Linked DNA regions of Homo sapiens. The protein of the gene in region 2 interacts with the protein of the main gene of each other region in a pairwise test. Each region holds a gene or a part of one and is shown on either strand. Other genes may lie near its edges.

Region 1 (3,746 bases), on a different chromosome or scaffold from region 2:
AGAAAAAGAAATCCTGTCATATGCGACAACATGGATAAACTTTGAGTACATTATGCTAAGTAAAAGAAGCCAGTCACAGGACAAATACTTTATGATTCCACTTACATGTGGAATCTAAAATAGTCAACCTCATAGAAACAGAAATTAGAATGGTGGTTTCCAGGGGCTGGGGGAGGTGAGAAGACGTTACTCAACGAGTATAAAGTTTCTGTTATGCAAGATAATTAAGTTCTCTCTATACAGCAACTTGAATATATCTCCAGAGAATTGTGCTGAATGAAAAAAGCCAATTCCACCATTCACATACTGTATGATTCCATTTGTATAACATTCTTGAAATGACACAATTGTATATATGGAGGATAGACTAATGATCGAGTCTGGAGGAAAGTGAGTGTGGCTATAAAAGGGCAAGATGAAGGATCCTTGTGGAAATATCGGAAGAGATCCTTGTGATGGAAATGTTCTGTCTCTTGAATGGACCGACGTCAGTATCCTACTTGTGATATTGCAAGATGTTGCCCTTGGGTGAAATTACCTAAGAGACATAGGTCTCTCTGTATGATTTCTATATTATGTTTTACAACCTGACGTGAATAAATCCACATTTATCTCAGAATAAAATATTTCATTTAAATACATCATTAATCACCACCTAAGGCTAGCTGCTGTTGATGGTTTTGTGGCCACTTGGACATTCAGCAAATGTTTTTAAACTTGGCTTTGTGGTTTACTATAGAAAAGGGTCTCAGCCAGGCATCTGGTTCCTACCTTTCCTCTTGTGTAAGCTCCCCTGTCTGTATTACCCAACTAATCTGGAAAGTAGCTTGGCTGTGAAGATTGTTTATAAATCATAAAATGTGGAGACCAGGGGTCAGAACAAAGGAAACTCACAACAAGGATTAATGCTTTTTTTCTTATATCTAAAGATATAGGGAATTGACATTTAAAGATCTAGTTGTTTTTTATTTGCAATTCTAGAATCCAGCCACACCTCCTTCTATAAAATAGAACTAGTGTTCTGGTGATCCAAGCAGAGGAATATGGCTTCATACACAGAAACGGGCTGAGGAAAGCAGAAACAGAGAACAAGAGTGGATGGGTCATTTCAAAGTTACTTTCCCTATCATGGTTAAAGCAAAGGGGATTTCTTTTATCATGCCTGCTAAACTGGCCTGTTTGGGACTTGGCTATTATCTCTCTCTTTCTCTCCTGAGAGGAGGTCAGGTAACAACTTAGTTGGAGTTGGTGGCCTGGAACTTCAGCATGAGTAGCTCCATTTCGATTTGATCTGTTGGGCCTAGTGCAGGAACTCAGTCCAAACCGATAGTCTCCTATACATTTTATTCTACACCTATGCTCATTTTCTTCTTTGCACATCTGTATGCTTAAAAAGTGTTCTTTAAAGATAAGCATGATTATCAGGTTTAAAGTTGCCTGGGATGGTCCCTCAGGCCAGTCCATTGGCTGGACTGCAGAAATGTCTGCAGCAGATGTGACACGCCTCTTTTATCCCCCTCATTTCTCTGCCTCCACCCATCCCTTGTCCTTTTCTGTTTTCCTTCCTCCCTCCTCCCTCTCCTTACCCATTCTTTCCTCTCTTCAGCCTGTCCTGCCCTCCCCAACTCGACTTCCTCTTTCTTTCCTCCTTTTCCCACCCTTTTCTTCTTCCTTATAGTCCTTTCCACCTTCTCATCCCCCTTTCCACCCTTTCTTCCTTCTCCTCCTTGCCGTCTCCATTCTCTTCCTTTCCTGCCTCCCTGCCCCTCCCTCCTCCCACCCGCTCCCTCTTCTTTCTGTTGGTTCCTCTCCTCTCTGACCTGTTCTTTTCCCTTAGTCTCTCCCCAGCCCTTCCTCCTTCCCCTCCATCCTTCTTCCAACCCCTCCTCCTTCTCCATCTCTTCTTCTTCCTCCCCAGCTCTCCTCCCCAAGTCCCTCTCCATCCTCTCTCTTCTCCCCGCTCCTCCCCATCCCTCCTCCCCTTCCATCCTTCTTCCCACCTCTCCTACTTCTTTTCTCCCTCCTCCCCCCTTCCCTCCTGTCCCTCCTCCTCGCCCCTCCTTTCCCTCCGTCTTTCTTTCCACCCTTCCTCCCTCCGTCTCTTCTCTCTCCTTCCCTTTCCCTGCCTCCTCCCCCTCAATCCTCCCTCTCGCCCCAGCCTCCTTGGCCGCGGAGTCCTCTGTGAGATGGAGGAGCTCAGTTGGCTCCGCTCGGCTCCACTCGGCTGGGCTCGGCTGAAAAAAGCCGGGGGGAGGTGGCGCGCGCGGGTTTCTGGGAAGCGTAGTCCGGCGCAGTCCGCGCAGGCGCACTGCCGTCGGGCGGGCCTAGCGGGCGCGGTCATTGTCCTGGCAGAGCGGCGAGCCGGTGAGTGTGGCTGCGGGGTCGCGCCCACCCTCTACCTGTGCCGGGGGCCGGAACCTGGCCCCGGGGAGGGCGCGGCCTCGGGGAGACGGCGTGCAGGCCCAGGTACGGGGAGTGCAGGGCTGGGTGCTGGTCCAGGGCGTGCGGGCGCAGGAGAGGGCGTGCAGGCCGGGACCGAGGTGCGCCTGGAGAGGCTGAGCGGCCGAGGAGAGGCTGAGGGGAAGCTGAGGGGCTAAGGAGAGGCTGACTGGAGGCTGAGGGGCTGAGGAGAGGCCGGGGCCAGGGAGGGAGAGGCGTGAGTGGGTTGGAGGTAGGAAAGTTGCATGAACACGAGGGCCATCCTGGGGGGAAGGTGGCCTGTGTGAGAGACAGGCAGTGCATATCATCCTGAGGATGAGGCTGTGTCTTTGTGGATATTGTGAATGTGTCTGTGTGTGTGTCTGTGTGGGTCTGTATGTGTGTGTGAGACAGATTGTGTCGTCCTGAGGGTATGGCTGTGTCTCTGGATATTGTGATTGTGTGTGTGTGTTTGTGTGTGTGTGTGTGTGTGTGTGTGTGTGTGTGTATGAGACAGAGAGAGAAACTGCGTGTCGTCCAGAGGCTGGGTCTGTGAATGAATGTGAATGTGTCCATGTATGTCCGTGTGGGTCATGTGTGGTAGCGTGTGTGTGTGTGTGTCCCACTTCTTCAGAGTCTTGGTCTCTCTGTGGAGCTGTGTCTCTCCAGGTCTCTGCCTATGCATGTGTGGTGATATCTCTGAGTGACTGCCTGTGTCCTTGTCTTTGGTGTTGTGGGTGTGTCAGCCTTGATCTCTGTCCATGAGTGTCTCTGTGGGAGGGTGCCCTCTGGGTGTCCACTATGTCTGCTCTTTCCATGCATGTCTCTTGGCATGAGTGTAGGGCTGTGTCTTTCCAGGGGCCAGTCCTGTCTGGATCTTTCCTATCTCTGTGTGTCCACCTGTGTCTAGAGTATTTCTTGATGTTTGCGTGTGACTCTGCAGGGGTGGGTGCGTCTGGGTGTGCCTCTTCCAAAGACTATATGCCTGGACAAGGGAGCCTAGCAGAGCCACTACCTTCTCACCCTACGCTTCTCCTAGTCTGCCTGCCCACAGTTCCCTGGCTTTTTCCTGCCCATAGAAGGCTCTGGAGGCGTAGGGGCCTGGGAGTGACAGGGGCCGGGTGGAGGAGGGGAAAAGGAAGGCTGTTTCTTCTGCCTCCCACAGGATCTTCTTAAAGTGGGATCAGACTCCCAAAGGGTCTCTGTGCCCTACTCTGTTCTGACCAAGGAGAGGTTGATTTGTTCAGGGAATGTGTATGCAGCCAGTGCTGGCCATTTATAGATGTCCCAGTAACTCTGAGGTAGAGACCATCATCATCCTTATCTTA
Region 2 (3,746 bases):
GTTGGGTTGAATGGAAAACAGTTTTCCTGACCTTAAGAGGCAGTTCTCAGTGCTCCAGTAATGTTCACCAATCTCTCAGTAACAATTCATGTACTTTGGGAGCTGTATCATATTCCTTTGTTGGTACCTGGTTTTTACATCCCACAATCAAGCCTCAGCAGTCAAGCAATTTCTGACATTTTCTCAGAGACCTAGAGTCTTCCTCAGAGTCTCAGCCAACATGAGGACTGTTGGATTATTAATGAAAATTCCAAAGCAACCACTTAGTAACCAGATCATGTATTATGCCTGTTCTCAAGGGGGAATTTCTAAGTGTTGAAAGATCTCATTTGCACAATATTTTAAAAACCAAATGTTAGCACTCACGGATGAAGAAGGACATGGGAAATTGGTACGGTCCTAAGAAACCCAGGCTGCAGAGTTGCTCTAACTAAAACAGATTAAAATACCTCCCTGTGAGGTTCACAAGTACAAATGAAGATGCCTCCAGAGGACTTCAGCCTGCACCATTTTCAGAGCCAAAGAACTACTTACTGTCTTCAATATATGCCCCATGGCCATCTAAATAATAAATGCTTACATAATTTTTAGAAGTCTGTGTGTCCTATAAGTCAAATTAGAGTTTGGTACAGCTATTAGCTTTAACTAGCCTAACTTGCCCCCCAAAAATGAATTGCTTATGAGATAATATGGCAAATTGTCACTCATCTTCTGTTACAAATATTTTCTTGTGAGTGAGTTTCAAAAAAAAGTTGAGTTTGGTTGCTTTTACTGTTAGTATAAAAATCATAGGGTAGGTGAGTTAACCTTTCTAACTTACAGGTATTTTGTACCCACATGCTCAAAATTCTGCTAGGAAAGGCACAGCCCCTGCCTTCAAGGAGCTTTCAATTTAACTGGGACTAATACAGTTATAAATTATACCTGGGGGATTCCAAGGTCACCTGAATCTCGGTTTACTTAATGCCTAACATAGTGCCTGGCATACGGTATCTGGTAAATTTTTGTTGAGTCATTTTAAAGAATGAATAAAATTAAAGGGTGCATTTACTGGAATGCTAAGTTCTCTGGTATAGAGTTCAATGTCTATGGGTATACCATAGACAGATGTATTCACAAAGGGATTCATAAAATAAGATGGGAGAATGGAGGGCAGCACGGCTTGAGCTGGGTCCTTCAGGGCAAGAAGAGAGGTGATTCCGGGTAAAGAGAAGCAACAAGGCAAAACCTGGCATGGCGGGAGAGGGAGGGACAGGAGGGAAGGATGGGAATGGAAGGCAGTGAGTTCATGTTGGAGGAAAAAGGGTAAATGAGGCAGACAGGGTGGGAAGGCAAGCGGAAAAACCCACTAGCTGAAATGGATATGAATGTTTAGGTTTGAGTATTTATAGACAAGTTGTCAGGACATAAAGTACACACTGAAATCGATCCTGTTCTGCGTATACTCTGCTACCTGCATGTGCTTCCCTTCCCTCCAGGGTTGCCCTTGCCTCCTCGGAAACACTTGAGGTGGGTAGGAGTCATCACACACATTCACTTGCTTTAATAATGGGGAAAGGAGAAAGATTTGAGGAACAGAATCTAAAGCTGAACTGGATCAAAGAAAAATAGGTGACAATTTTGTCTCTTCACAGGGCAGCTGGACACAGCTGCAGAATCATGCCATTCCCTTCTCCCATCACAGAAGCAAATGTGAAATACGAAACTTTTTTGGTTCGTTCAAGAAACAACAGTCTGAGTTACAGAAATATTTTCCTGCATCAAGGCTCACCTTTATAGAAACTGGGTTGGGGGGAGGGGATGTGTAGTGTTATTTTTATAAAATTCCTAAATGTTGTACTAAACAAAATTGAGAAAGAAGTATTTTTTTGAATAGAATAGAAGTTGTAAATGAAATAACTAATCACAACCAGAATCTTTGGTTTTAATGTTGAAAGGAGAGGGGGTTGGTTGCACACTGAGGATGGTTCTCCAATACGATGCCTAGGGAAAGGCACTGGCTTCAGCTGGACGCTCACTCCAGCAGGATTCTTTGCACAATGCTAGCAAAGATCAGTGAGAGGAAGGCTGGAGCCAGGCACTGCTTCATGACAGCTTGAATTTGGCAAGACGGGGGATAAGAGTTAATGATCTCCAGCCACAGAGTGGCTTACCATTTCCTTTATGTTTTCTGTACCTTGTTAACATATCAGTGTATCTGCTGTAGGATGAGTTCTAAGCCTTTCTTTCTTTAGGGAATAAAAAAAAAATCCACCCCATGACTGTCCCATCACTTTACAAATTTATTATTTACACTCCCACTGACTTTAGGAGAGAAAAGCTAACACTTGTTTGCATGCGTGTGACAACGATTCCTTCAAAGGATGTTGGGAATCCAATCTAACAGGGATCTTATATACACAGCAACACGTAACAAAGGGATTTACTGTCAAAACGTTTATTGCAAAATGGAGTCTTAGAACAAAGGAAAGCAAAGAAAAGTTCACATCAAAATGAAATGTATGACACCAACTTGGATTTCTGAATACACTGTGGACTTTGTGCTGGAATATCAAATTCCAACTATAAAATCAGTAACTGAAATAGTCTTACCACACAAGAGTAAAATTTAATCTTCCATACAAACATTATACAAGATATTTGGCATAGGACTTGCTCAGAATAACATTGCAATAGAATAATTGAGAAAAAGTTTTTGTTAAAAAAACAATAAAGTGATAATGCCATCTATTCAAAGCTCACACTCAAAGAATATAAATATTTTCTATTATTTAGTACAAAAATTTTAAGAGTGCAAAAGCAATATGTGCAGTGTATCATATCTGACATTAAAAGATATACTATTCTGCACACAATATAAAATAATTAATGTAGGTGCTTGGAACTCTAGTTTTGAAGTAAATAATCACATGCCAGAAAGCTCCTCACAGGCAACAGAGTGCAAACAAAGGTGGAGTCTGAGAAAACACGGCTAGTCTTCTAGATTTCCTGATGGATACTCATTTTTCATCATAGAAATGCTGTATCTAGAGCTGTCAGGCTATGCTACAATCGAGAGGAGAGAATAGATTTTTATGTCTGGCGATGCTTAACACTTAAACAGGAAAACAGTCTTACTCAAAAGCAGCAAAAGGTGCCTGATTATAGAAAATTTATGCTCTGTTATATATGTGGTATGATGAAACTCTGCTACTTTCAAAAGGCTGCAATAAGTCTAGTACAATAATTTTTTAAAGTATTAATATTTAACTCAGAATAAGTTTTAAAACTGTCTTTCATAAAACTCTTACCATTCCAATGAAAACTCTGAAAAATAAAGTTGTACGCACAGTAATTCTGGGAGGTCATTCTGGATCACTCCTAAACCCTCCCCCGACCCCTAATTCCTTGATTTTTAATGGGGATCAAGTTTGACTACCTTAGCTGGTGTTTAAAAGTCTAACAAATTCACTGCACGTTAAAAATCACTGGTTAAAAACCCACCCTCAACATTTCCAGAGCACCAAAAACAGTGAGCTGTAGGCTTTCAACGTCTTTTCACTGGTTATGTAAAATAGTAAAATGTAATTTTGCTTTCAAAAATGAGTAGAAAAAGGAGGCTTTAAATTAACCTATAGAACTGTAGCTATCTCAATGAGTTTTTTTTCTTTTTTTTTTTTAATTGTGGAATCAGTGTAATGGGAAAGTGACCTGCCCTGGTGCATTTGGCTGTTTCATCAAGTTGCCACCAGCATTTCTAAGGAGAA

The links. The genes of interacting proteins can lie anywhere in the genome.
Region 1: the proteins of MAP3K20 (region 2) and ZNF71 interact in binary tests that used the Homo sapiens proteins (3 or more experiments, as listed by UniProt).

Annotation. Positions count from the first base shown.
Region 1 is NC_000019.10:56,592,963-56,596,708, forward strand, and holds the start of ZNF71 (endothelial zinc finger protein induced by tumor necrosis factor alpha), read left to right. Parts: upstream 1-2,339; 5' UTR 2,340-2,466; intron 2,467-3,746. UniProt on the Homo sapiens protein: May be involved in transcriptional regulation.
Region 2 is NC_000002.12:173,225,822-173,229,567, reverse strand, and holds part of MAP3K20 (mitogen-activated protein kinase kinase kinase 20), read right to left. Parts: exon of another isoform or gene 2,422-3,746; intron 1-2,421. UniProt on the Homo sapiens protein: Stress-activated component of a protein kinase signal transduction cascade that promotes programmed cell death in response to various stress, such as ribosomal stress, osmotic shock and ionizing radiation.